Homo sapiens: one gene and its partners. The protein of the gene in region 3 interacts with the protein of the main gene of each other region in a pairwise test. Each region holds a gene or a part of one and is shown on either strand. Other genes may lie near its edges.

The links.
Region 1: the proteins of LSMEM2 (region 3) and EMP1 interact in binary tests that used the Homo sapiens proteins (3 or more experiments, as listed by UniProt).
Region 2: the proteins of LSMEM2 (region 3) and TMEM143 interact in binary tests that used the Homo sapiens proteins (3 or more experiments, as listed by UniProt).
Region 4: the proteins of LSMEM2 (region 3) and LSMEM1 interact in binary tests that used the Homo sapiens proteins (3 or more experiments, as listed by UniProt).

Annotation. Positions count from the first base shown.
Region 1 is NC_000012.12:13,192,680-13,199,728, reverse strand, and holds the start of EMP1 (epithelial membrane protein 1), read right to left. Parts: upstream 3,004-7,049; 5' UTR 2,857-3,003; intron 1-2,856.
Region 2 is NC_000019.10:48,339,933-48,346,960, forward strand, and holds part of TMEM143 (transmembrane protein 143), read right to left. Parts: intron 5,423-7,028; coding exon 5,228-5,422; intron 3,520-5,227; coding exon 3,389-3,519; intron 2,878-3,388; coding exon 2,598-2,877; intron 1-2,597.
Region 3 is NC_000003.12:50,282,061-50,288,616, forward strand, and holds the end of LSMEM2 (leucine-rich single-pass membrane protein 2), read left to right. Parts: intron 1-4,410; coding exon 4,411-4,524; intron 4,525-4,613; coding exon 4,614-4,802; intron 4,803-5,008; coding exon 5,009-5,142; 3' UTR 5,143-6,054; downstream 6,055-6,556. Other genes in the region: IFRD2 (interferon-related developmental regulator 2), read right to left, coding at 6,131-6,211, 6,349-6,444, 6,523-6,556.
Region 4 is NC_000007.14:112,483,974-112,491,001, reverse strand, and holds part of LSMEM1 (leucine-rich single-pass membrane protein 1), read right to left. Parts: exon of another isoform or gene 6,191-7,028; 5' UTR 6,186-6,190; coding exon 6,059-6,185; intron 4,080-6,058; coding exon 3,951-4,079; intron 1,193-3,950; coding exon 1,053-1,192; 3' UTR 1-1,052.

The DNA of each region.
Region 1 (7,049 bases), on a different chromosome or scaffold from region 3:
AATGAGTGTGGAGGTACACACTGAGGTTCTGAGCTCCCCGCATCTGGAAATTTTAAGATCTGTAGGATGGCCATCTGTTCAAGATGGTGTAAAAATTAGATTTCTGCATACAGTAGGAGAATGAATGAGATCCAAGATCCCTCCCAAATTTAGAATTCTGTGAACGAAATGAAGGATGAAATGGAACTGACTTGCCTCCTGCCCTTTCCTGTGTCCACGTTTCAGTTATGTGCCCCACCAGGCTCCATAGAGTCTACAGAAAAGCAGTCTTGCCTCATCCACAAGTTTTCCCCGGTCTTCAACGTGTCTCTCTCCAGTAGTCCCTGTGGGTCTGGCACTACCTGAAATCCCTAGAGCCACCCAGAGCAAGCCAAGAGGGTCTACATTCCCGGGTGAGGGGTCTCCATGAAGCCCACTGACAAGGCTGGGAACTTGATGGGCCTAATCTGGTCTCTGGAGGAAGCAGGAAGGGCTGAGGAAGGCACAGTGAGTCCTTTCCACTCTCCACAGAAGGGATCTCTTTCCTTTCCCCAGCGGTCTGCCCAGCAGTCCTGGGAGATAGCCAGATTCTAAGGATGTGATTTGCTCCAAGTTGGTTCTTGATGGCCTTTTGCCAACTCCCAAGACAGTTTAGTACCCACAAACAATGTAAATGTGGGGGGCCCTCTGACCAGGGCGCCAGACAGGATGTCCTGCAGCCCCCGCCCCCGCCCCATTCTTCGGAGTCTGGGTGGAATTGGATCTGCCCCTGAGGGTGGGAGGCAGCGGGCAGAGTGGGGGGGAAAAATAACCCTCACATTTCGGGATTGTCAAAGCTGAAATCCAGAAAAACTCTCACAGCTAAGGGACTCTTTCACTACTTCTTGGAGGAAGAGCAGAGAGCAGGAATCAGAACGGTATTTTTCTAAATTGTCTTCAAACTCCAGGAAGTAACATGTAGCATATTTTCTCCTTTATAAACCTACAGTATCATGTGAAACCTTGCCACAAATAATGCAGTTCATGATGGTTTACACTCCCAACATTGTCAGGGCTTTCCGTGTGTTGACTGGTTATTAGTTTTAACCTGCACAGAACTAAAAGATTTGTATAATTTTCACAGGATATTAACACTATTGATTTAATAATGGCTAATCCACATCCATGTAATGTGGAAATAATAAACATGTGAAGCAAATGTAGGAGTTCCCTTCATCTTGAAAAGTTGCCCTGATGCCTACTCAATCGTCCCCCTTGGGGCAGTTTTACAAGGAGCATTGCCTGCTCAACACAGGGTTGATTACATGTAACTTCTCTCCCAACGTACTGCCTTTCTAAAGGAAAAGCCTAACTTTGTCAGACAAGCTGAATCCTGTCATTCTCATCTTGTTTACTTGGGGAAAAAATATACCAGTGTCTATGTTGAAATGGGCCACACCTCGGTAGACACTCACCCAAAATGCTAACCGAAAAAAAGAAAAAAAGAAAAAAAAGAAAAAGCACCCTTCTTCATTCCTCCAGATTTCATGATTAGCATGAGTGTTTGCATTTATACAATCACATTTCGGGAACAAGAGAAAAGATAAGCATTTCAAAACAATCACTGCCTTCCATGCAAAGAAATTCCACATCCACTTTCTTTTAAAAGTTCTTTTATCGTTTCTGGTATGCCATCTTTTCACTCAGCACTGAAAGGCAGCTCTTTCTGGGGTGAAAGCACAAAGCCACTCAACAATTTTTAACAGGCACAGATGAAGTTCTCCTGCCCCACCCTCTTCTCCAAACCCAGCTTCCCTTTTGCCTCCCCCGCCCTCCACATCTGGCCAAGAGAAGGCATCTGGAATCCTCATCAGCTCCTGCTTCGACCAAGTGAACCCCTCCCACGTTTCATTTAAAACACCATTTGCCTCCCTCTCTTTCTCTCTCTAACAGTTTTCTTTTTTCATTTTTTTTCTTTTTCTTTTTTTTCCTTTTTGAGACAGAGTCTCACTCAGCTGCCCAGGCTGGAGTGTAGTGGCGCAATCTCAGTTCACTGCAACCACCATCTCCCGGATTCAAGCAATTCTCCCGTCTCAGCCTACCAAGTAGCTAGAATTACAGGCACCTGCCATCATGCCTGGCTACTTTTTGTATTTTAGTAGAGACAGGGTTTCACCATGTTGGCCAGGCTTGTCTTGAACTCCTGACCTCAGGTGATCCGCCCGCCTCAGCCTCCCAAAGTGCTAGGATTACAGGCATGAGCCACCGTGCCCGGCCAACAGTTTTCTTTAAACAAACCAATCCCCCTCTTCCCATCCTGTGAGGAGAAAAAAAATACTTAAATTTAAACAGAAGTGAATAGGGAAGCAAACAGGCAGGAAAAGCAATGTCAAAAATAAACTGAAAACCAGTTATCTATCCACCACCACCCAAAAAATCCCAACCAACAACCAGCGAGCAGAGTAACAGTTCAAGTCCTGAAGCAATCGGAATCAAAACGGAGGAGGTGAAAAACATCTGGCCAGTTCCCGATGTCATTTCCAAGGTGTGTGGTGTTTCCTCCATAAACAGGATCCTATCCCAGTTTGTTTCAAAGTCCCTGCTCCCTCCACATCCTAGAACAAGAACCCGGTCACTGCCAGGCACGATTTTAGCCCCATCCCATTGATTTCCCCAGACTCCGTCCTCAAAATACACTTTTCTGAACTTTCTAGAAAAAGTTGTCTCTGTATCCACTTTGAGCCAAAAGTTTCAAGGACTTGGTTCTTAGAGGATCATAGAAAAATAGCGAAGGAAGAAAAGAAAAAGCAAAACTAAGATGAGGTCAGAAGAAGCAGAGCCGTGGAAAGGAAGGAGAAGTTTTGCTGAGAGTCCCCACAGCGTTGGGAGCTGTCCTACCTGAAGGGTCCCAGCGACAGAGGCGCTCTGAGTGGCAGGTGCTGGCAGCAGCCCTGGTCCGCTCTTCTGGAAGTATGTGACCGCACTGAGGGGAAGGACCTGCCTCCCGAGGTTATAAGTTTCCTCTGCTGGTGTACTGGGGTGTGTAATGGGCGGTTTCTTTTCACCGTGTTTTAAAGGAGTTTCTATGAATCAGTCTGGCTTTAAAAAAAAAAAAAAGATTTGTTGGTAAGCTACGCCCTGCTAAGCTGGCAGTCAGTCAAGAGTGGCTGGGAGTGAGCCATCAATTCAAAGAACCCTGTTGTAGGCTCTCTCTGACTCAGACACACAGACCACAGTGGAAAAAAGGAGGGACATTGCTTCAAATGAGTAACAGGATCACACAAATAGATCTGTTTACTGAAGCCCATTCCTCCTCACCAAAAAGGAGACTTGGTTACCATGGACATAAGGCAAAACACAAGGTTTCAGCCTGGGAGGGGGAGGAAAGGGGCCAGTGTCCTGCTGACTGAAGTCCTAGGTCATCATCAAGCGAGATTCCCAGTCTTCCTCCCCCATTAAAAGCATCAGCTGCTGCTCACTGTCAGGAATTATCAGATTCCTTTTTTTATTTACTTCCCTGCCTGACCCTGGTGCACTGTCCTGTGGGTGGCTGTACAGGGAGGCCCTGAAGGCGAAGGGGACACACTAGGAGCTCTTGCAGCCCTGCCTCTGAGTGATGGAGCACTGATTGAACAGCAGAGAATTCCTGGTCTTTCATTATGCTCTGCTAGTGCCCGTGTGGACTCTCCACATTCCAGGAGGAAGTCCTCTAGTTAAGAACTTTGCTCTCTGTAATAATCAGCTGGACCTTGTTCTACAATTGACTTTCTTGAACTTGGCCAGTAGCATAATCATCCCTACTACCTCCCTGCACCACTCCTCTCTCTCTCTCAACTCTGGAGCTGGGAGAGGCCTGTGAAGTCATCTCATCCCACAGCCCAGGCATTCCACTGGAGAGAGTAAAAGCCCAGATGCCTGAGTTCAAGCCCAGCTCTCCACAAATTTGCTGTGTGACTTTAGGCAAACCACTTAACTTCTCCATGCCTATTTTCTCATGCATAAAATGGAGATGGCAGGTATGTAACTCATAGAGCTATGATGAGAAATACACATATAGGGGCTCATGGCAGTGTGCATAGTGAGCGCTCAACAAATCTTAGCTACAAGGATTATTTTACTGAAGAAGCAGCTCAGGCCCAGAGAGGTGAAGTGACTTATTCAAGGAGATACAGTACGTTACCAGTAGCAGCTTGGATCTAGGTCAGCACATCCAAGCAATTCTATTTCTGTTATTCTCTGCTGCACCCTGACAACTTATTTCAATTCAAAATATGCGTGTGTAGTATTTATTCATTCATTCTGCCAATACAGGCTGCACGTCAGTCTTCACTGGGCCTGATTCAGAGCACTGAGTCACAGAAGTGAATGACATCCCTGCCTCTTGGAACTTATATTCCCTAAAAAGATAGAAAACAGACTGGTGGCTATTCACCAAAATGTTGATCAAATTCGATGATAAAATTATGGATGCAGTTTAGTTTGTTCTGGTCACAATTCTGTATTTTCCAAATCCTCTGCAATGAACCTATATTACTGTCTTTAGGATGTTGGCATGTGGATGGATGGATTTTAGGAAAAAATATTTTAACATGGGAATGTGGAGAATATTTTCTAAGGTGGATGATAAGGAAAACACAACACACACACACACACACACACACAATGATTTGATGATGCTGCATCTTCACAAGTCCCTGAGAACTGAATTCTATCTCTGTAAAAGTAAGAAGGTCTGGATTTTCTCACTGAAAACTGATGACGTGATAAAAGACTGCATGTTTCTCATAGAGTTCCTCACCTCTCCCCTCTCTCATTGCTCATTTGATAATAAAAATGCCTGTCTGAGAGGGGCCACTCCCAGCAGTGGGTTGAGAGTCCCTGTGATCTCTGAGCATCCCAACCCTCAGGGAGGGGAGGGTGTCTGCAGGTGAGGCCAGGAAATCCCCAGGCATGTGCTGGCGCTCCAGATGGGCCAGTCTCCCCTGCTGGAATCGGCCTGTCTCCCTGGCCTTTTCCTACTCTCAGGGTTGCCTTTCACCCCTGATGCCCTCTGCCAGTTTTAAAGTCTCTCTTCCCTCAGCTGCCTGGAAAGGAGAACTGGACTCCAGAGGAAGTGTTCTCAGATGCTGAGGAGTATGTGGTCTGATTGCATTTCTTAAAGAGAAACCTGGAGCCAAGGAATAGCAGAGGGGAGGCATTCTCCCTCCCACCTCCTTCTCGGGCTTAACAAGGGGAAAAATCAGGAACTTTTCTTAAAGTACTTGAGTAGAGGAATCCTTCAGTCTATCTGGATTTCCATGGATTTCACAAAGAGAGACGCTGGGCTCAGGGACGGGCTTCAAAACAGGACCCAGAAAGCAGGAGGCCCAGTTTCCACGCCTACTACCTGGCAGTGGCTGTGAGCGAGGCATCTGCCTGCCTCCATTTCACCTTAAAGTGAGTAGACAGCATCACCTTCCAAATGGGTCTGATAAATCTCACCTTCCTGTGTGCTTTTGGAGATGTCTAGGTTTGGAGAGAAAATATTAAATGCATTGAGCTGTGAAAACACACCCATGCACACATGCAAAAACACATGCACGCACACACACATGCACACATGCACACACAGAGTGGTGCCATAGAAAGCCAAGTTGTGTAAATATTTTTAAAAGATGAATGCAAGTCCAGGATTTCTAAAGACTTATAATTAACCCTTGAAATATCACTGAGCTTATTTTATAAAACAAAGTTATCCAGTCTGGGAAAGCAATTGGATCTGTTCTGGCTGAAGTTCTAGCTTTTTGTGCCTCTGGATGTGATTAACTCGTTAAGCCTGAGTGTTCCTTTGGCTATGAGCAGACAATTTTGAGACTACAGACAGTAAACGGTTCAGGGCCTAAAACCACATGGGGCTGGAGATACAGCTCCCCTGGCGTTTATATGGTCTTTCCAAACAATGTCGAGTAAGCTGCCTTTCTGCTCCCATTTCCCCCATTTGGAAGGTAAATTAGACACATTCATTTTCTGCATGGGCAAAGAACCGGACAAAGTTTCATTTGACCTCACTCAATAAAGCCATATATTCTTGGGAGGGAATGTCTCTCTCACCCAGTGCAAATGTTACTCCAGCAAAGGGATATTTTCCCCTTTTTCGGAAGCAACAAGAATCAACTTCTGGCACGTTGCCATTTGGGGCAGATTTTCAAGTTTGAACCGGCGTAAACATTTTAATGAATGCATGAAACGAAGGCTTTTAATGACTGATACAAGAAGTCTACTAAGGCAGGTCTGGCCCCTACAGCCCACAGAAAAGAAAACTAATAATAGCTTGAACTTGTTTTTGTTCAAACTCAGTTAACCGAAAAGAATCCCAAACTATGCAACATGTTCCCCAAAGCTATTATATGAACAGGGATGTCAATATTAATATTAGCACACACTGCTTGGAAGGTAAATAGAATGGGGGAAAAAGTTACACAGTATCTTCCCAAGTCAAAGGAATGTTTGTTCCTCACAACTCCTCTTTGAAATTTGAGAATTTACCAGAAATGTTGTATTCCTTCCCTTTCCTTTCTTTCTTTCTCCAACTCTCCTCTCTCTATTTCTCTCTCAGGCTTTCTTCTGGCTTTCTTTATGGTTTTTGGGGGTGTTTTTGTTGTTTTTTGGGTTTTTTGTTTGTTTTTGTTTGTTTTTTTGAGACGGGGTCTCGCTTTGTCACCCAGGCTGGAGTGCCGTGGTGCAAGCTCGACTTATTGCAATCTCCGCCTCCTGGACCCAAGCGGTCCTCCCACTTCAGCCTCCTGAGTAGCTAGCACTACAGGCGTGTGCCACCACACCTGGCTAATTTTTTGTTTTGCTTTGTTTTTGAGACAGAGTCTCGTTCTGTCTCCCAGGATGGTATGCAGTGGCACAATCCTGGCTCACTGAAGCCTCTGCCTCCCAGGTTCCAGCAATTCTCCCACCTCAACCACCAGAGTAGCTGGGCTCAGATAATCTGCCCAACTCAGTCTCCCAAAGTGCTGGGATTACAGGTGTGAGCCACCACACCCAGCCCATTTTCTTCTGGCTGTTATTGCTTTCTTTCTTTTTCTTTTTCTTTTTCTTTCTTT
Region 2 (7,028 bases), on a different chromosome or scaffold from region 3:
TGGCCAGGCTGGTCTCGAACTCCTGACTGCATGTGATCTGCCTGCCTCAGCCTCCCAAAGTGCTGGGATTACAGGTATGAGCCACTGCACCCAGCCAAGGGCCCACATGTAAAGGCTGGGCCTCACCCCAAGGCGTGGGGAAATACCTCATGAATTCATGAATACACTAAATTAACTTGTCAACTGGGATTTTTTTTTTTTTTTTTTTTTTTGAGATGGAGTCTCACTGTGTCGCCCAGGCTGGAATACAGTGATGCCATCTCAGCTCACTGCAACCTCTGCCCCCTGGGTTCAAGTGATTCTCCTGCCTCAGCCTCCAGAGTAGCTGGGATTACAGGCATGTGCCACCATGCCCAGCTAATTTTTGTGTTTTTAGTAGAGATGGGGTTTCACCATCTTGGCCAGGCTGGTCTTGAACTCCTGACCTCGTGATCCACCCGCCTCGGCCTCCCAAAGTGCTGGGATTATAGGTGTGAGCCATTGCGCCTGGCTGGGCTTTTTTATTGTTATTTTTTGATTTGGGGTTTCACTATGTTGCCCAGGCTGGACTCCCAACTCCTGGGCTCAAGCGATCCTCCCACCTTGGCCTCCTGAGTAGCTAGGACTACAGGCATGTGCCACCATGCCTGGTGTGAATTGGGTTTGAAATAGGGTCTTTCAGAGCCTGACAGGCTCCATAGCACCCCAAGGGCCAGCAAGGGGTGAGGCAATAGTCACCGTGGGCTGGGACTCAGTGTCTTCTCCCCAGAGGCACCGGGCCTCCCTGCCTCTCATCTCGCCCCTCCCCTCTGCCCTCCATGGTTGCAGCTTACAGCCATTCCACAGCTCCCTGCGGCTCTGAGGATAAGGCCTTGGGTACCACTCTGGGCATTCAAGGCCCTCACCACCCTCTGGGACTTCCCCTCTCTACCCTGCTCACTGGATCCAGCCCCATGAGATACGCCAGGCTGAGCTCGTGGGCTCTTTCTCCACCAGGCTCAATTCCTGTCTTCCAGAGCTTTCCTCAGATCCTACCTGAGCCCTGGTCCCAAGCAGAAATTGCTCCCTCCCCAGCCCCTCTGTTGGCCCAAGTATGCCAGCACCCTCTCAGGCGGCACAGCCTGGCTATTATCTGCGGGATTTATTACCAGCCTTCCTAAGAGCCTGTCAGCATGGCTGAAAACAGCTTGAAAACCAATGAGCCAGCAGGTGAATGATCGCGTACGACAGATGCTTCACACCAGTCTACACTCCTGGGGCCGGTGCCAACCCTGGGAAGAATCAGTAAAAGGCAGCTCCCCTCTGGGCTGACTCAGCCTCGAGACAGGACACGCATTTTGGCAAGCGGAGCACAAGTTGGGTGTCAGCCTCCACCTGGCCCCTGGGCCACGAATCCTTGGATGGTGAACAACCTGTGCAACTGTTCAAGGCAGCCCGGCACTCACATGTAGCAGAATCAAAAGGGAGCTTGTTAAAAATATAGTTCCCTGGGCCCCAGTCCCAGAGTTTCCAATTCAGTCCACTAGGACTGGAGCCCAGGAGGCTGCATTTGTCAGCCAGCTCCCCCAGTGATAATGATACCCAGTCAGGATGGGGACTTGGAACAAACAGCCCAATTAGTAATGATAATAATCATCATCCTGGTAATAGCTAACTCTCACATAGCACCTCCTGTGCCATGTGGGAGGCTCTATTCTCAGCACTGTGCATGTTAATTCATTTAATCCCCACAACACCTCTATGAGTTAGGTCCCACCATCATCCCTACTTTGCAGATTTTGAAGCTGAGACACAGAGAGGTTAAGCAACTTGTTCAAGATCACACAGCGAGAAGAGAGTAGAGTCAGATTCAAATCCAGGAAGTCTGCTTCCAGAACACACCCCCTTCACCGCATCACTAAAGCGCCCCTAAAGCCGGCACTCAGTGAGCGGCTGTCAACCCTTATGTAGCCCCTACCACGAGCCGAGCACTGCCCAGTGCTTCTCACAGACTCACTCATTTCATGCTCACAACCCTACAAGGCAGATCTCGCTATCATCCCCATTTTCCAGATGAGAAAACTGAGGCTCAGAGAGATTAAGAAACCCCCCTAAGGGGTGTTGAGTAAATGAAGTAGGGAAGGGAAGGGGAAGGGAGGGGAGCGGAGGAGAGGGCAAGAAGGGAGGGAAGGGAGAAAGGGAAGGGGGGAGGAAGGAGGTGGGGAGAGGGAGGGAAGGGAAGGAAAAGAGGAACAGGAAGGAAGGGAGGGAGGGAGGGGAAGGGGAGGGGAGGGGAGAGGAGGGGAGGCGGAAGGAAGGGGAAGAAGGAAGGGAAGGGAAAGGGGAAAAGGAAGGGGAGGAGAGAGAGGGAGAAAGGAAAGAAGGGAGGAAGGGAGGGAGGAAGGAAGGAAGGACAGGGAGGGAAGGGAAGGGAAAGAAAAGAGGAAGAATGGGAAGGAAGGAAGGACAGGGAGGGAAGGGAAGGGAAAGAAAAGAGGAAGAATGGGAAGGAAGGAAGGGAGGGAGGGAGGGAGGAGAGCATGACGCAGGAACAATGCATGAAACAGAGACAACTACAGGGGGCCTGACCTGGTCCCCACAGCGCAGGGCCGCAGGAGGCGTGGCAGGCGCATGCTCACCTTGGAGGCCCGCAGGCCCATGAAGATGGCGAAGAGCAGCAGCAGCAGGGAGGTGGCCACCTTGAGGTCGGTTAGCACCACCATGCCCACGTTGACGAAGATCGCCACGCCGGAGACTACCAGCATGAGGTTGAGCAGGGCGCGCTGCAGGGTGGGCGTGCGCACCTTCAGCTCCGGCAGCAGCTGCTCCAGGCCTTCCAGCGGCGTGTCCTTGAAACTCTTCAGTACCAGGTGTCCCCGTTTGGTCCGGGCTGCCAGGACCACCCGCTTAAAGTATCTCCTGAGGGACAGAGACAGAGGCAGGAGCAGGATCGGGACTGCACTGCCCGGGGAGCCCCCTCCAATCCTAGGACGCTCACTCTGGCTCTACAGTCGCACAACCATCTTAAAAGCGACTCAGTAATCATGGGGAAGAAACCAGGGATCAGCTGTGTCCAACCACAGGGGATCGGTTCAATCGCGCCATCGATCCCTGGTATTGGACGTGCAGATTGTTTGTTGGAATCCTGGCCGTGCCGCATCTTCAGAATGTGGACCTCCCTCTCCGAGCCTCAGTTTTCCTTATTGGAAAATGGGGAGAACTGTCCCCATCCTTTCTCTTCCCCTGGGAATCAAGTGTAGTACTCACTTTCCCTTGAGAAGAAAAGACAGCATTTGGATGAGTCACGCCTCCCATTTCTCAACTTCCCGCCTGGGGCCCAGACACCCAAACCAGACACTGACCTGTCAGTCCCCTCTTGACTCTAACCTTGCTCCCTCTTGCTGCAGCTGGGGAACAAGGGCCGCCTCACCTCTCCGCAGGGGGCAGCTTGGTGAAGAAGCCACGCCTGGAGCCCACGCTGGACTTCAGGGGCATCTGCCCGACTCGCTGGCCCAGGGCCCAGAAGTGAATGTAGACATACTGATCCAAATTTACTGTCACCTGCCGGGGGGATGAAGGAAGCAGTGGCGGGTGAACATGGGCAGGAGTGTTGAGGGCAGGATACCAGAATCAGATGTCCTGCCCCTAAATAATTCCCCCGTTTCCCACTTATCCCCATTCACCATCTAGGCAGGGCTGTCACATATGGTTGTCCATGTCGTATACTGCACAAGGGCTCATGATCTAACACAGTGCCATTCACGTAGAAGTCATCTTTACCATATTTCCTAGAATCTAAGGTGCCACTGACTCTACCTGATTATTTTATGAAGCAACTAAAAACAAAATACGTTGCCAATTAAATGATGTCACACCACCACCTGTAAATTACATCCCAATTTCAGAGATGACAAAACATGACTTTGGAAAAACTGCAGTTTAAAATCACTAAAATGTGGAATTTGGGGAGATTTTAGTATTTTTTATTTCTGTTTTTATTTTTATTTCTATTTTGAGATATTGTCTCACTCTGTCACCCAGGCGGGAGTGCAGTGGCACAATCTCAGCTCACTGCAGCCTCCACCTCCTGGGTCCAAGTGATTCTCGTGCCTCAGCCTCCCAAGTAGCTGGGACTACAGGCACCCGCCACCATGCCTGGCTAATTTTTGTATTTTTAGTAGAGATGGGGTTTCACCATGTTGGCCAGGCTAGTCTCAAACTCCTGACCTCAAATGATCTGCCTACCTCAGCCTCCCAAAGCACTGGGATTATAGGTGTGAGCCACTGCACCCAGCTGATTTTAGTATTTCTTATAATTTTGTTAGCATTTTGCGTGCTTTTAGGGGCTTGGTTTTTTTTTTCTTTTTTAATGTGTCTCTCTGTGTGTGTGTGTTTTGTTTTGTTTTTTTGAGACAGGTTCTCAATTTGTCATCCAGGCTGGAGTGCAGTGGCAAGATCATGGCTGACAGCTCACTGCAGCCTTAAACTCCTGGGATCAAATGATCCTCCCACCTCAGCCTCCCGAGTAGCTGGGACTGCAGGCCCGCACCACCATATCCAACTAATTTTTGTATTTTCTGTAGAGACGGGGTCTCCCTGTGTCGCCTAGATGAGTCCGGAACTCCTGGGCTCGAGCGATCCTCCTGCCTCGGCCTCCTGAATGCTGGGATTACAGGAATGAGCCACTGAACCCGGCCTTGTATTATATTATTTATTATTACAATTTTGGCAGATGGTGCTAAGTCTCTTGCCCTAAGAGAGCCATATCATATGATACTTTTCCAACAGATGGCAGTGAAGTGACCTGAGACAGCAGCACCTCCTTTTTTTTTCCAGATGGAGTTTCACTCTTGTTGCCCAGGCTGGAGTGCAATGGCACGATCTCAGCTCACTGCAACTTCCACCTCCCGGGTTCAAGAGATTCTCCTGCCTTAGCCTCCCCAGTAGCTGGGATTACAGGCACCTGCCACCATGCCTGGATAATTTTTTATATTTTTAGTAGAGATGGGGTTTCACCATGTTGGCCAGGCTGGTCTTGAACTCTTGACCTCAGGTGATCCACCCACCTTGGACCCCCAAACTGCTGGGATTACAGGCTTGAGCCACTGCATCCAGCCAAAAGTAGCCCCTTCTCTGAGTTCACCAAGTGCGCCATATGGGCCACAGTCCCAGGCTCAGGACTACAACTCCCAGCAGCCCATGCCTCTCAGAGGCTCTGCCCCACCCTAGAGGCCTCCTGGGAGTTTTGTTCTCCTAGGGAGCCAAGTACCTGGACCTCATCCTGAGGGTGGTGGACCACCAGCGCGTAGGCCAGGGTGTCCTCAGACAGCGGGGAGAAGTTGGCCTGGGCCAGCAGGGGCTCCAGAGCCCGAAGCACCTCCTGCTCATTAGACAGACGCTGGGGATCCGTTAGTGATGGCTGATCGAGGGTCTCCCTGTCAGGGTTGATGGGGTCATATAAGGCCTAAGAGGAGAGTCAGAGAGAAAAAGATGGGATAGGTCTCTGCATGAAGGATTCTAGGGACATCTAAGGACATCCCTCTCCAGATACTTTCATTTATTTATTTATTTATTTATTTATTTTATTGAGATAGAGTCTCGCTCTGTTGCCAGGCTGGAGTGCAGTGTCACGTTCTCCGCTCACTGCAACCTCCACCTCCCGGGTTCAAGCAATTCTCCTGCCTCAGCCTCCCAAGTAGCTGGGACTACAGGCGCACGCCACCATGCCCGGGTAATATATATATATATTTTTTGTATTTTAATAGAGATGAGGTTTCACTGTGTTGCCCAGGCTGGTCTTGAACTCCTGAGCTCAGGCAATATGCCCGCCTCGGCCTCCCAAAGTGCTAAGATTACAGGCATAAGCCACCGTGCCCGGCCTGTGTTTTTTTGTGTTTTGTTTTTGTTTTTTTGAGACGGAGTCTCGCTCTGTCGCCCAGGCTGGAGTGCAGTGGCACAATCTCAGCTCACTGCAACCTCCACCTCCTGGGTTCAAGCGATTCTCCTGTCTCAGCCTCCTGAGTAGCTGGGATTACAGATGCACGCCACCATGCCCGGTTAATTTTTGTATTTTTAGTAGAGAAGGGGTTTCACCATGTTGGTCAGGCTGGTCTCGAACTCCTGACATGTGATCTACCCACCTCGGCCTCCCAAAGTGCTGGGATTACAGGCATGAGCCACCTTGCTCAGCCCTTTTTTCTTTTTCTTTCTCTTTTTTTTGAGATGGAGTCTCGCTCTGTCACCCAGGCTGGAGTACAGTGGTGCAATCTCAGCTCACTGCAACCTCCACCTCCCAGGTTCAAGCAGTTCTCCTGCCTCAGCCTCCTGAGTAGCTGGGATTACAGACACATGCCACCACATTCAGCTAATTTTTATATTTTTAGTGGAGATGGGGTTTCACTATGTTGGCCAGGCTGGACTCGAATTCCTGACCTCAAGTGATGCAACCACCTCGGCCTCCCAAAGTGAGATTACAGACATGAGCCACTGTGCCCAGCAGATTCTTTTCTTATCACACCCATATCCAATCCTCTGGCAAGTTCACTTGCTAAACCCCTGAATCTTCTTGAATCCACCCTCCTCTCTATCTCCTTTGCTGCTATCTTCTCACTGAAGCCACCTTCATCTCTCACTTAAACAATTATGTAGGGCTTCTGTTCCCCAACTTTTACTCTTACTACTTTCTTTTTATTTATTTATTTTTTTGAGACAGAGTCTCACTCTGTTGCCCAGGGTGGAGTGCAATGGCATGATCTCAGCTCACTGCAATCTCCACCTCCTAGGTTTAAGTGATTCTCCTGCCTCAGCCTCCCGAGTAGCTGGGACTACAGGTGCCCACCACCACGCCTGGCTAATTTTTGTATTTTTAGTGGAGATGAGGTTTCACCATGTTGGCCAGGCTGGTCTCGAACTCCTGACCTCAAGCGATCCCCCCACCTCAGTCTCCCAAAGTGGTGGGATTACAGGCGTGAGCCATCGCACCTGGCCTACTCTTGCTACTTTTCAACCAGTATCCACATGGCCATTGGGAAGAACTTACTGAGGCTGTAAACAGCTCCCACAATCCACCC
Region 3 (6,556 bases):
CCAGGCTGATCTTGAACTCCTGACCTCGTGATCCGCCCACCTCAGCCTCCCAAAGTGCTGGGATTACAGGTGTGAGCCACCATGCCCGGCCCTAATCTTTGATTTTTTTGTAGAGATGGGGTCTCCCTACGTTGCCCTGGCTGGTTTCAAACTCTTAGACTCAAATGATCCTCCTGCCTTGGCCTCCCAAAGTGCTGGGATTACAGGCATGAGCCACAGTGCCCGGCCCAAAGAGAGAATTTAATATGACCTTCAACCCACCACCCAGACATAATGACTGGCAGCACTTGCTTGTTTTTGTTGTACTTGCTTTTGAGCACGTCAAGAGGCAGTTTCAAGTAAATCATGGAGGTTGAGTTACTGTCCTGAGAATGACAGTCCCAGAGTGCAAGGCCACCCTTGCTCCTATCTGGAGGTGTCCCCTCAATGCTCTTCCCTACTGTTATCAGCTTCCAGGTGGGTATCTGGAGCTCTTGGCATCTGGACCAGGATTTTTAGACATCAAGTTAAAGAACAACTAGAAGAAAATATAATTAAATATTGGCCAGGTACGGTGGCTCATGCCTGTAAACCCAGCACTTTGGGAGGACAAGATGGGCAGATGACTTGAGGTCAGGAGTTCAAGACCAGCGTGGCCAAAATGGTGAAACCCCAGCTGTACTAAAAATGCAAAAATTAGCTGGGCATGGTGGCACGTGCCTGTAATCCCAGCTACTGGGGAGACGAGGCAGGAAAATCACTTGAACCCAGGAGGCAGAAGTTGCAGTGAGCTGAGATCATGCCACTGTACTCCAGTCTGGGTGACACAGTAAGACTCTGTCTCAAAAAAAACAGACAAACAAAAGGCCAGGCATGGTGGCTCATGCCTGTAATCCCAGCACTTTGGGAGGCTGAGGTGAGCAGATCACGAGGTCAAGAGATCGAGACCATCCTGGCCAACATGGTGAAACCCCGTCTCTACTAAAAATACAAAAATTAGCCAGGCGTGGTGGCACGTGCCTGTAGTTCCAGCCACTCGGGAGGCTAAGGCAGGAGAATCGGTTGAACCTGGGAGGCGGAGGTTGCAGTGAGCTGAGATTGCGCCACTGCACTCCAGCATGGCAAGAGAGGGAGATTCTGTCTCAAAAACAAACAAACAAACGAAACACCGGCTGGGTGCGATGGCTCACGCCTATAATCCCAGCACTTTGGGAGGCTGAGGCGGGTGGATTACCTGAGGTCAGGAGTTCAAGACCAGCCTGGCCAAGAAGGTGAAACCCCATCTTTATCAAAAAATACAAAAATTGGCCGGGCGCGGTGGTTCACACCTGTAATCCCAGAACTTTGGGAGGCTGAGGCAGACGGATCACAAGGTTAGGAGATCGAGACTATCCTGGCTAACATGGTGAAACCCCATCTCTACTAAAAATACAAAAAATTAGCCGGGCATGGCAGCGGACGCCTGTAGTCCCAGCTACTTGGGAGGCTGAGGCAGGAGAATGGCACGAACCTGGGAGGCGGAGCTTGCAGTGAGCCGAGATCGTGCCACTGCACTCCAGCCTGGGCGGCAGAGCGAGACTCCATCTCAAAAAAAAAAAAAAAAAAAAAAATTTGCAGGGTGTGGTGGTGCACACCTGTAGTGCTAGCTACTAAGGAGGGTGAGGTAGGAGAAACCCTTGAACCCGGGAGGCGGAGGTTGCAGTGAGCCCAGATCGTGCCACTGCACTCCAGCCAGGGCAACAGAGACTCTGTCTCAAACAAACAAACAAAAAGCAAAAACTTCAATGAGTGTGAAAGTACATAATTAAAATCAAAAGAAAAGTACACAGACCCAAGTGACTAAATGGGCAGAGGCTTCAAATTGATAATTAAGAAGCCACACACAGCTGGGCATGGTGGCTTGCGCCTATAATCCCAGCACTTTGGGAGGCCAAGGCGGGTGGATCACTTGAGGTCAGGAGTTTGAGACCAGCCTGGCCAACATGGCAAAACCTGGTCTCTACTAAAAATACAAAAATTAGCCAGGCATGGTGGCAGGTGCCTGTAGTCCCAGCTACTTGGGAGGCTGAAGCACGAGAATTGCTTGAACCTGGGAGGTGGAGGTTGCAGTGAGCTGAGATCGCACCACTGCACTCCAGCCTGGGCAACACAGCAAGACTGTCTCAAAAAAAAAAAAAAAAAAAAAAGCGCCACACACGTATTAGTCACACTCCCTAGGCTAAGAAACCCAATAAAATAAGAAAGACCATTTCTCATCTCTCAAGTTAGCAAATATATGTGTGCACGTGTGCATGTAAATATAATTTTTTTCCTATGGGGATGCCTAATGGTGGCAATATTATACCCTGCGGGGGAGCTGTGGACAGTGCTTCTGGAGGACAGTTTGGTAATAGCTTTAAAAAAAATCAGGCCGGGCATGGTGGCTCACACCTGTAATCCCAGCATTTTGAGAGGCCAAGCAGGATGGATCTCTTGAGACCAGGAGCTCGAGACCAGCCTGGGCAACATAGTAAAACCCTGTCTCTACAAAAAATACAAAAAAAATTAACTGGGCATGGTAGTGCATGCCTGTAGTCCCAGCTACTGGGAAGGCTGATGCAGGAGGATCACCTGAGCCCAGGAGGTGGAGGCTGCGGTGAACTGTGATCACTCCACTGAACTCCAGCCTGGGTGAAAGAGTAAGAATCTGTCTCAAAAACAAAACAAAAATCTCAGGCCAGGCGCGATGGCTCACGCCTGTAATCCCAGCACTTTGGGAGTCTGAGGCGGGCGGATCACTTGAGGTCAGGAGTTTGAGACCAGCCTAGCCAGCATGGTGAAACCTGGTTTCTACTGAAAATACAAAAATTAGCAGGGCGTGGTGGCACACATCTGTAATCCCAGCTACTTGGGAGGCTGAAACAGGAGAATCACTTGAACCCAGGAGGTGGAGGTTGCAATGAGCCAAGATTGCGCCACTGCACTCCAGCCTGGGCAACAGAGCAAGACTCTGTCTCAAAAACAAAAAAACAGGCCGGGCACGGTGGCTCACGCCTGTAAATCCCAGCACTTTGGGAGGCCGAGGTGGGTGGATCACAAGGTCAGGGGTTCAAGACTAGCCTGGCCAAGATGGTGAAACCCCATCTCCACTAAAAATATAAAAAGTAGCTGGGTGTGGTGGAAGGCGCCTGTAATCCCAGCTACTCAGGAGGCTGAGGCAGAGAACTGATTGAACCCGGGAGGCAGAGGTTGCAGTGAGCCGAGATCTTGCCATTGCACTCCAGCCTGGGCGACAGAGGGAGACTCCATCTTAAAAAAACCAAACCAAAACAAAAAACGACCAAATGCAGTGGCTCATGCCTGTAAATGCCAGGACTTTGGAAGGCCGAGGCGGGCAGATCACTTGAGGTCAGGAGTTCCAGACCAGCCTGGCCAACATGGTGAATCCTCATCTCTACCAAAAATACAAAAATTAGCTGGGCGTGGTGGCACACGCCTGTAATCCCAGCTACTCAGGAGGCTGATGCAGGAGAATCGCTTGAACCCAGGAGGTGGAAGGTGCAGTGAGGCGAGATCACGACATAGCACTCCAGCCTGGGCAATACAGGGAGACTCCATCTCAAAAAACAAACAAACAAACAAAAATCCCTGCTCTTGGATCCAGTAATTCCACTTCTGGGAATTAAACTATCAGGAAATTGGGAAAAAACCTTCATATTCAACGGTGGATGTCCTGGGGGTTAATTTCAAAAGGGAACTGCAGCGGTGAGCCAAGATCGCGCCATTGCGCTCCAGCCTGGGCAACAAGAGCGAAACTCCGTCTCAAAAAAAAAAGGGGGGCGGGGACTGCAAACAACCTAGATGCCCAGGCAGCCTCAGGGAGATGTGTGAAGGGAGAGACCTCAGAGGCATGTGCAACAGTATAACAAAGAAGGGTCTCCCCAACAGTAAATGTTGAATGAAAACAGCAGGGTTCACACATGTACAGCAGAGTCACACTGAGTATGTTAACAAACACAGAACCAAGGCCAGGAGGGAAAGGCACCAGAGTGGCTACAATAGGGCTTTCTGACCAGAAGATGCCAGGCATTGGGTCTGCAGGGAGAACTGACAAAAGAGGCAGGACTGAATTCCATTTGCTGCAGGTTTAGCATTCAAGGCTGATAAACTGCTAGAAATAAGCAGGCAGAGGAATGCCTGAGTGAGTCCCTGGGGTGCTTGGAAGGAAACAAATCAAATGTACCTGTTGCTCCTGTATACAGAATAAGCCTGTAAGGGTCTGGGATCATCCTGGATCCAAATCAAGGGTAATTCCTGAGTCAGTTTTAGGGGATTTGGAACCAAATGTCCCACTATCCCTATCATCCGCAAGTCCTTGCTGCCTGAAGCCACCTGGTAGAAGGAAGGGGGTTGACCCACCACTGGCTAAATCAGCCTGCGCTGCCCCTGCAGACTCCGTGGCGCCAATGATGCCCAGCCAGAGGAGCAGGGGGCCATTGGCCCCCAACCACGTGCATGAGGTATGCCTGCACCAGGTGGAGTCCATCAGCGACCTACATAGTGGAGGTGAGTGGGGACAGTGGGGTGGATGATGTGCTGGGGGAGGGGACGAAAGCAGGTGCACCCACCACCCTCCCAATGTCCCATCCACCCAGCAGGCACACTGCGCCCCTATCTAACTGAAGAGGCACGACCGTGGGATGAGCTGCTGGGCGTTTTGCCGCCGTCACTGTGTGCCCAGGCTGGCTGCAGCCCTGTGTACAGACGAGGAGGGTTCCTGCTGCTGCTCGCGCTGCTGGTGCTCACTTGCCTAGTGCTCGCACTCCTGGCTGTCTACCTGAGCGGTATGGACGCATAGGGTGCTAGTAGGAATGGAAAGCAAGGCAGTGGGGACTGGGAGGCCCTTCTGTGCAGCTGGAAGGAGTAACTGCAGATGCTGCAGCAGTGAAGGATGGGGCGGGAGGCCCGTGGCTGCCCCTGGTCCTGGGCTGGGTCTGCAGGGGTCACGGGGTGGCACATGGTCTGATGATCCCCCACTTCCCATTCACAGTGCTGCAGAGTGAATCCCTGCGCATCCTGGCACACACGCTCCGCACGCAGGAGGAGACACTACTCAAACTCCGCTTGGCCAGCCTCAGCCAGCTTCGGAGGCTCAACTCCAGTGAGGCCCAAGCACCCAGCTGAGATGCCATTTGGATCTGGGGCCTGGGGGTGTGTGTTGGTGGGGGAATAAAGTGGCTATGGGCAGGTCTCTCCTTCCCTACTGCTGGCTGCCACATCTACACTATTTCCTTGGTGAGATTTTTGTACAAGAACCTGTTGTTAACTTAATGGCTGCCTCCCTCTCCTGATCTCTTCAAGCCAGGCCTAGCCAAGCCTCTGGTGCCAAAGCCTCGCTTTGGGTGGCCCAAGGTCAGGGGAAGGGGCACCAGCCTCCTGGCTCCTCCTGTGGCCTGTCAACACTCTCTGGCCACCCCAGATGGCAGGTTCTGAAGTCTAGAAATAGCTGCCCCCATAGCAATCACCCAAACTCTGCCAGGGCTCCCAGTGAGGGTCCAGCCTCAGCTCTTAAAGACAGGCTGGGCTCTGAGTAGGGGGAGAGGCACCACCTGGGGAAGACTGCCTTGGAGGGCAAAGGTGACATCGTGGAAGACCAGTTGGGCCCAAGCCTGGGATAGTAGATGGGGAGGGAGAACAGAAAAATACCCAGGGGTTAAGACCACAGAAGGCTGACCGTTCTGTTTAATTATCTGTAATAATCCTTAAAAATCAGCACACAAATCCATTCCAGGTAGCTTTGCCACCCCACCTGCTGTGGTGGCATTTGTCCAGATGCCACCACCCCCCTAAGAGTGGGTCATCCTGGGGGAGCAAGGCCTGAGAAAGGAAAGGAAGGGAAAGGCCCCCTAGTGCCTGCCCCACAGCCCTGAGGAAGGCACATATTTAGCCTGGCCTGAGACAGGACAGGAAGGGGCCACAGGGCTGAGTGCAGGGACAAAGGGGTCAGGGTCCCAAGTGTCCGGGCCCCCAGCTACCCACCCCATGTCTGTTTTTGGTTTTGTCATTAAAAAAAATAAAGTGACAAATACTGGTGGAGACCAGTTGTTGCACTGTCTTCTGTTAAAAATACGGACCAAGGGCATAGAAAGTCTCCTCTTCAGCAGGTCCTGCTTCACAGGATGTCTGCCCGCTTGTCCCGCACACGGCTTCGAGCCTTGGTCCGGGCTTTGAAGGCAGCAGCATTGTACAGGTGCTAGAGTGGGGACAGAGAGTGACACCCTGGGGAGCTGGGAAGGGAAAGGGCTGGGGGTCCTCTTCCGGCCTCTACAGAATTCCAGGCCTCCAGGAAATGGGAATAGGGGGAAGAGAAAGGTGCCCAAGGGTGCAAACCTTCTCAAAGCGTGGAACCTTGCAGGCCTTCAGGGCAGTGGCATCCAGCAACAGCACAGGGCCCAGGCCAAAGATGTCACGGAGTAGCTCATTGTTCTGGGGGGCAGAGGGCAGTGAGCTCAGGCCAGACTGAAGCAACCACACCAGATGTCCCCTCCCTGTCCGTCCCCGCACCTGGAGGTGGTGGTGCATGCCCGAACCCAGCACT
Region 4 (7,028 bases), on a different chromosome or scaffold from region 3:
TCGTAGTAAACCCAAATGTTTTTGATCAATCCAAAATGATAGAATCATAATACATTCTTCAATTGACCGGTAGAATATTTTTATATTAAATAAAAGATTTTCTAAGACTCATATGCTTTTTAAACTCATTTATTTCACACTGTGTCTTATGTCATATGCTGTGTGTCTTACTTTCATTGCTGGAACTAATGCAGGTTCCAAATATTCTAACTACATAATTTCCTAGTGCAATTTAGGAAAGGCCACAAATCTATCAGATTTCTTCCAAATCAATCAGCAGGGTGCCAAAGGGGTTTTTTCATGAGAAACAAAATACACAAAGTTTATATAATTACATATAACTGTCCATCTCCTTTCTTTATCCTGCACTCTTATGTGAGCTCCTCTTGAGTAGAGTGATTTGCACAGAGTAGGAGCTTAATAAACATTAGTTGAATTAATTAGGCTTTCCCTTTTGACTCTCAGCCCCACATAACTACTGCTCATGTTTTCACCAGCAAACACCAGACAGCAACTAGCTCTGGGGCCCACCCATCACTGTCCCTGGGGAAATAGAGTCAAAGTCTAATCACCTGAGCAGAATCCCTCTTATTGAAAAGAGTAATCACCTGGTTCCCTTCAATACATAAAACTCAATGAATTTCTCAGGCTTTCCCAGATATCTGTAAAGGTGCATGAGGTGTCATGAACTTCATTGACACAGTGAACTTGTTCTGGTAGCAAAGCTCCTTCTGTAAGAAGTTGGACGTACATAGTCAAGTTCTCTTGCTTTGTTGATTCTCCTCCCTGCTAGCCGCCCACCCCATTAAAGTTGAAGTGCCCTACCATAAAAGGGGGCTGAGACAAGTTCACCCCTTTTTAGTTGCTATTCCCATACCCACTTGCCTTGGAATTGCTCCCATCTTGCTGCAGAAAGTGGGCCCCAGGGGTGGGTTGCCTGACCAGATCATCTGTTGCCTGAGGAAGTGCACTTTCTCAGTTCCTAACCCTGTACACTCCCAGGAAAGTAAAAAGCTCAAGGTGTTAGCAGGTGCTTTCAGAAAATCATTCCTTTAGTTTTGTTCAGAGTCCAGTTGGTTGAGTTGGTTGAGTCGCTTTACGATCATGTTATTGATTCTCTTAAGATCATCTATGTCTTTTCCTTCAGCTGTTAGTCTTCTTGACACATCATCCATCTTGTTTCCAGTTTGAACTTCAAAACAGAAAACAGACTGTGTTACATTGGTTTCCACTGTGTTCCACTGAAATTCATCAGATCCCCATGTTGGTGCTCAGCTGATGCTGAAAGACACTCTTGGCAAATCCCCTGTTCCCATATCCATGCATGCCAGAAGCCCAGTAGAGAAACTGGTGAAGGCTGAAGTTGCCTATCCAGTGAATTGTTTTTACAATCTCTTGGTGCCAACCTAGACTACCTTTGGCAACTTCACACCAATTATGGCTAAAAAAGACCTTGCTGTGAGCAACCAAAGGAAGCTGTCAGCATGTTTGATTATCCTCCCAGAAGTGATTGCTATGTTGCTTTATTTTGAGACCCATTCTCAGAAAAAGGTTTTTGCTCATTTGAGAAATTACATTCTTTGGGTTCCAGCCTATTTTGACATAAGTCTGCTTGTTCTGAATTACCAGCCCAAAATGAATGTGTAATAATTCCCCCTCAGACCACCCATTAGAATGGAAGAACAATATTTTCCAAATACACAGGACCTTTGGCAATAAGATACGGAATGGAACACTTTGAGGTTTGCTTATCAGAGTTAAATTTTCTAAGATGGCTAGAGGAAGGATTTAAGATAATAAACTTAATGTATCTAACACAGAGCAATTATCCAGTAAAAAAACACTCTTCTTTATTCACCTGATCTTTCTGTTTCTCATTTAATATGACTTTGTTCTCAATAAAAAACACTCAAGGCAAATATAAAATAAAAGCTATTCATAAAAGTGGAACATAGTGATGTTGATAAAGTACATAGTCTTTGATGTCAAGTGGAGTATCCTTGAGCCCCATTTTGGCACTTATTAGCAACGTGACCTTGGGCACATTAATAGATCTCTCTAAATCTCAGTTTCAGCACTGGTAAAACCAAAATAATAATGGATTTGGCTGGGCACGGTGGCTCACGCCTATAATCCCAGCACTTTGGAAGGCCAAGGCGGGAGGATCACCTGAGGTCCAGATTTCGAGACCAGCCTGGCCAACATGGTGAAACCCCATCTCTACTAAAAATACAAAAATTAGCTGGGCATGGCGGCTCACACCTGTAGTCCCAGCTACTTGGGAGGCTGAGGCAGGAGAATCGCTTGAACCTGGAGGTGGCATTGCAGTGAGCTGAGATCACGCCACTGCACTCCAGCCTGGGCAACAGTGAGATTTCATCTTAAAAATAAAAATAATAATAATAATAATAATGGATTCTACACTACAGAGTTGTTATGAGGTTGTGAGCAAAGAGGTATCAAGGGCTTAGCACAGTGTCTGGGACAGAGTAATGACTCAATATATAGCATTTGGTATTATTTCCCTCAATCTTGCTACTTATCTCACAGAAAAAAAGAATTTGGCAGAGGGTTGTTTACATGTCTGTAGACATACCTAAAATTTCCTAATAGTTTAACTCCGTCATTACCCCCAGGCGGGTGTGGCAGGATGACATGCCCAGTATTAATTTATGTTGGAGTAACGGTTCAGAATACTAGCGCATGTGCTCTTTCTGGCATTGCTGGTTCAGTAGCCAAGCCTCCCCTAATTCATCATCAGATGCAAGTTTGCAACTATTGTAAAAATAGTACACATGTTAGCTTCTAAATGCAAAAGGTCATCAGCCCGGTGCAAGAGAAGCAATTAAACATGACCCCTCCCTCCCAGTCCCAACCCTTTTCTCCAGAGGCTAGATAAAGACCTTCAAGCTGTAAGGAGGGAGGAGTCTTTGGGGGAGGAAATGGGATTGGAAGCGGTGAAAGGGTCATCATGAACTCTGCCCACCTGTCTTCTCTCATCGTCATCATCACCTCTGCCTCCTCTAATCCTGAATGAAATTAAATTAGAGCCCTTCCAAAGGCTACAAAGCACTCAAGGGTGAAAGAAATGACAGTGCAGTGCACCCAGGCAAAAAGGTATCAAAGATGACACCTTCCCTTAGGCTCTGTCTGCTCTTAAGTCATCTGGAAGAGAATCAAAATAATTCCAGATGAGAGAGGAAACTGGTGGGCTCTGTGGGAAGAGGCAACGCTCAGAACGGGAAGACAGCACCGCAGGTGGACAGCACCCCTCCCACATCCAAGGCAGAGAGGAGGGTGGCGCTGAAGGCTTGAAGGATCTCTTGACTGAGAAGCTGAGGTGGGGAAGCCTGAGTCACCACTCAAGGTCACGACATGCATGGCCCAGGCCAAGAGCAGACAAAGCAGGTTATATTAGGAGTAGGTTGCCTGGACAGGATCAAATTGGAAAGAAGCCACCTTTATACATCTCCAACACTGTCTCTGGGGCCTTGCACAAGCCCTCAAGTGCTTCTCATTGATGTCTAGGATGATATGCAAGTGAGAAAACCTGGGAGCGAGTTCAGTTCGAAACCTCAATGTTTCGATGTTATAGATCTGAATTTAGTGGAGAAATCTAGGCATTGGATAAAGTAAAGCTAGAATCAACCAGAATAAGTTGCCTTCCATTGGGCAGCTAGAGGCTCCAAGTGAGAAACTAAAGTGCTATAGAATTATTTAACATACATATTCATGGACTTCTGGCACTATGGGCTTCTGCAGTGGGTTTGTGGCCAAGGGACCCTGTCCTCAGCCAGTGGTGTTCACTCAAGGCATTCCTTCTTTTTTCAATGTAAGCATTGATGACCAGGAAGCATTGACTGGAGGGTGCAAACTTTGTGGGAGCAAAGTTAACCAGCTATGAATAAATGCATACAAGTAATAAAAAAGAAACCTGTGGTGGTACTTACCTATTAGAAATATCACGAAAAAAACCAGTGCCAGGCTGACAATCAGCACAATTAGCAGCCCCACAAAAAACAGACTCCGGCTTCCATTTCCTGAGTTTGTGCCAAGGACTGGGATTTTGTCCTCTAGAGCTAATATGAAACAAACAAAAAACAAGGACAAAAACTGCTCAGCATACAACTTGTCAGCAGAACTGAACAGTACCCCAGTGTTAGACCGTGAGTAATGGACACACCCACTTTCTCTCTGACAAGCCTAGAAAGTGACTCTTTTTTTTTGAGACAGAGTCTTGCTCTGTCAACCAGGCTGGAGTGCAGTGGCTTGATCTCGGCTCACTGCAACCTCTGCCTCCCGGGTTCACGCCATTCTCCTGCCTCAGCCTCCCGAGTAGCTGGGACTACAGGCCCCCGCCACCACGTCCCGCTAAGTTTTTGTATTTTTAGTAGAGATGGGGTTTCACCATGATATCCAGGATGGTCTCAATCTCCTGACCTCATGATCTGCCCTCCTCGGCCTCCCAAAGTGCTGGGATTACAGGCGTGAGCCACGGCGCCCGGCCGTGACTTCTGTTTTAGGAATGTCTTTGGGCACAGAGAAATTTGTGAATTATTTACCTTCTTCTCTATTGGTATTCAAGGAATAAGCAGGGTTAAGCTATCTCCTTAGACCTCTTTGGAAAGTTCTTTGAAGACTGTCTTAACACTGAAATAGCAGAACATGAATTTTTGTGTGTGGGGAGAGGGAATATAGAAGTTAAAGGCTAAGAGTGATAGAAGTTCTATTACCCTTTCCCAAAGTAACCCAGGAGTAAAACAGAGCTGGTTGTGGGATACCTATGCTGGGTGGAAGACTCAATTGAATGCTCTGGGATATTTCCCTGGAAACTTCTTTTATTATAGGAATAATCAGTTAAGCCTACATCCATTTAAACAAAAATGGCCCTGACCTATTTTGGTTTTTTAAAGCTGTCTTCTGGATGGATATGCTCTGGAAGCAACGTTCTTTTAAATGCTTTGCAGTTGAACTGAGAATGCAGCTACATTTTATCGACAGCTTGGTTCACTCAAACCAAGAATTGACTGCATTTAATCACCGTTTTGCAAGATCTAGTTGCCTAATAACACCCAGATTATTTGTTGCAGTGAATAAGCAACGCAGAAACCTGGGGTAGTGGAGATCACTGGATTACTTTTTGCATACTCTCCTACGTTGAATTGGTCCCACTCACTGTGCCACTTGATTATGGACAGATGGGTGGCTTATGTCCCATGCCTTATAAGTACATCCTATGCCATACGCTTCAGCCACTTTTGCTTCCTAATCAAAGCAACAGCATAGGGCTGACACCTAAACTTCTACTGCTATTGAGACTGACAGCAATAAAAACAGATGAAAATTTGAACTTATTAAAATGAAGAAAAAAAGGAGGAACTTGGAAAGGATTTAGACAGGAAATAATAGATATAAAATTGGAACAGTAAGTTTAGAGTGCATATGAAACAAATGGCAAGTGAGCAATTAACACTGGTGTTTGAATGTCAGCATTTAAGCTAGAAAAGATGGCACTCAGAGTGATCTGATAAAGCTCATTTATAATATTTAGGAGGCAAGATACACACTTAGTATTTAGCAGATTTTATTTTGCTCCCCCCACCCCCTTTCTCCAACCCTTAATTGCACAATTTGTAACTTGTAAGTAGAAAATGCTCTGGATTGAGCATTCTCTCAGCAATCTGCTATAAAACAACACTCCTGTGGGAAGTGGTCCCCATCGGTAACCTAGCCATGGTCACTAGGAGAGGGATGAGCCAGCCTCCAGGAGTCCAGCTCTGCAGGCTCCACCCCTTTCCAGGGACAGAAACGCCACAGGATCTCAGAATATTTGAAGTCAAGAGTTCAAATCTCGTGTAGGATCCAAGAAAGCCCATAATCCTGTCAAGTATTCAGAAAACAAAAGCAAAATTGCCCAACAACAAATAACATTTCCAGTGCCAACCTCTTCCTAATGCCCCCTCCCCCTCCACCACACCCACACATCCAGTCAGCAGTGGCTATTTTTAGGTAGCCTAGAAGCTAGGAAGGGCTGCTGTGCCTTCCCCAGCACACATACGGAACAGATGCTGCGATCCGGCTGGACAGAGGTTTAGTTTGTTTAAGTCATTTATGGAATCCACCACATAAAGCTTTCCATCTTCCTGAATGCCACAAGAACCAGTGTCCTGGGAAGAATGAGTCATTGTCCCTGGAAGAAAACACTGATGTTAAAAACAAGAGGTTGGGCTTGTGAACTCAACTTCACAAGAACCACAGCCACCAGGAAGCCAGACAGGCCTATGAAGAACCACCCACAAATAGTATTTTCAACTAAGGCTCTAGAGAACTTGGCTTATCCAGAAAAAAATATTTCCTTCTGTGGACCACTTTGTAATCGTTCTTTTTGCTTTGCTTGCCAGGAAGCTCACAGTCAAATGTGTGGCCCAATTTTAAGAATTGTACATCCATGTATACCCTGCTTATCTGCAAACACTCTTTTCTCCTCCTCAGATGTCTCAGTTCTGCCTATATTTTCCCTGGATCTGTTTTTATTTTGTAACTAATTTTAAAATTTTTCTTTTATTACATTGTTCACATTCTGGTGAGATGCCTCAAATCCTTTGTGCAAGAAGACTAGGTAGACAAAATTAAGCTAGTCAGCAGTGGCCACAAAACATTCTGAAAAAAGAGAATATTACCATGAACCATTCTAATTGCAGGAGGCTTTAATAGAAAATTGCAATTTTTATAGCCTCCCTCCATATGGCATGTAAGTCCTTCTCTTCACACAATTCCTTTAGCCATAAGATGCTGACTGTGAGTCCCCAAGACAACAATCTTAGCAAACTTAGCTGCTATAGAGAGGAATGCTGCTAGACTTCAGGACCTCTGAGATCTCTTCCACCTGGGTTTCCCTTAGACTGAGGTCACTTATGTAATAGCTTGAGGTTTATTAAATATTGAAAGTAATATTCTCTAACGACAGCACAACTGCAAGCAACACTGAAAATCCTGAAGAGTTTAAAAGGTTTATGTGGAGATGTATC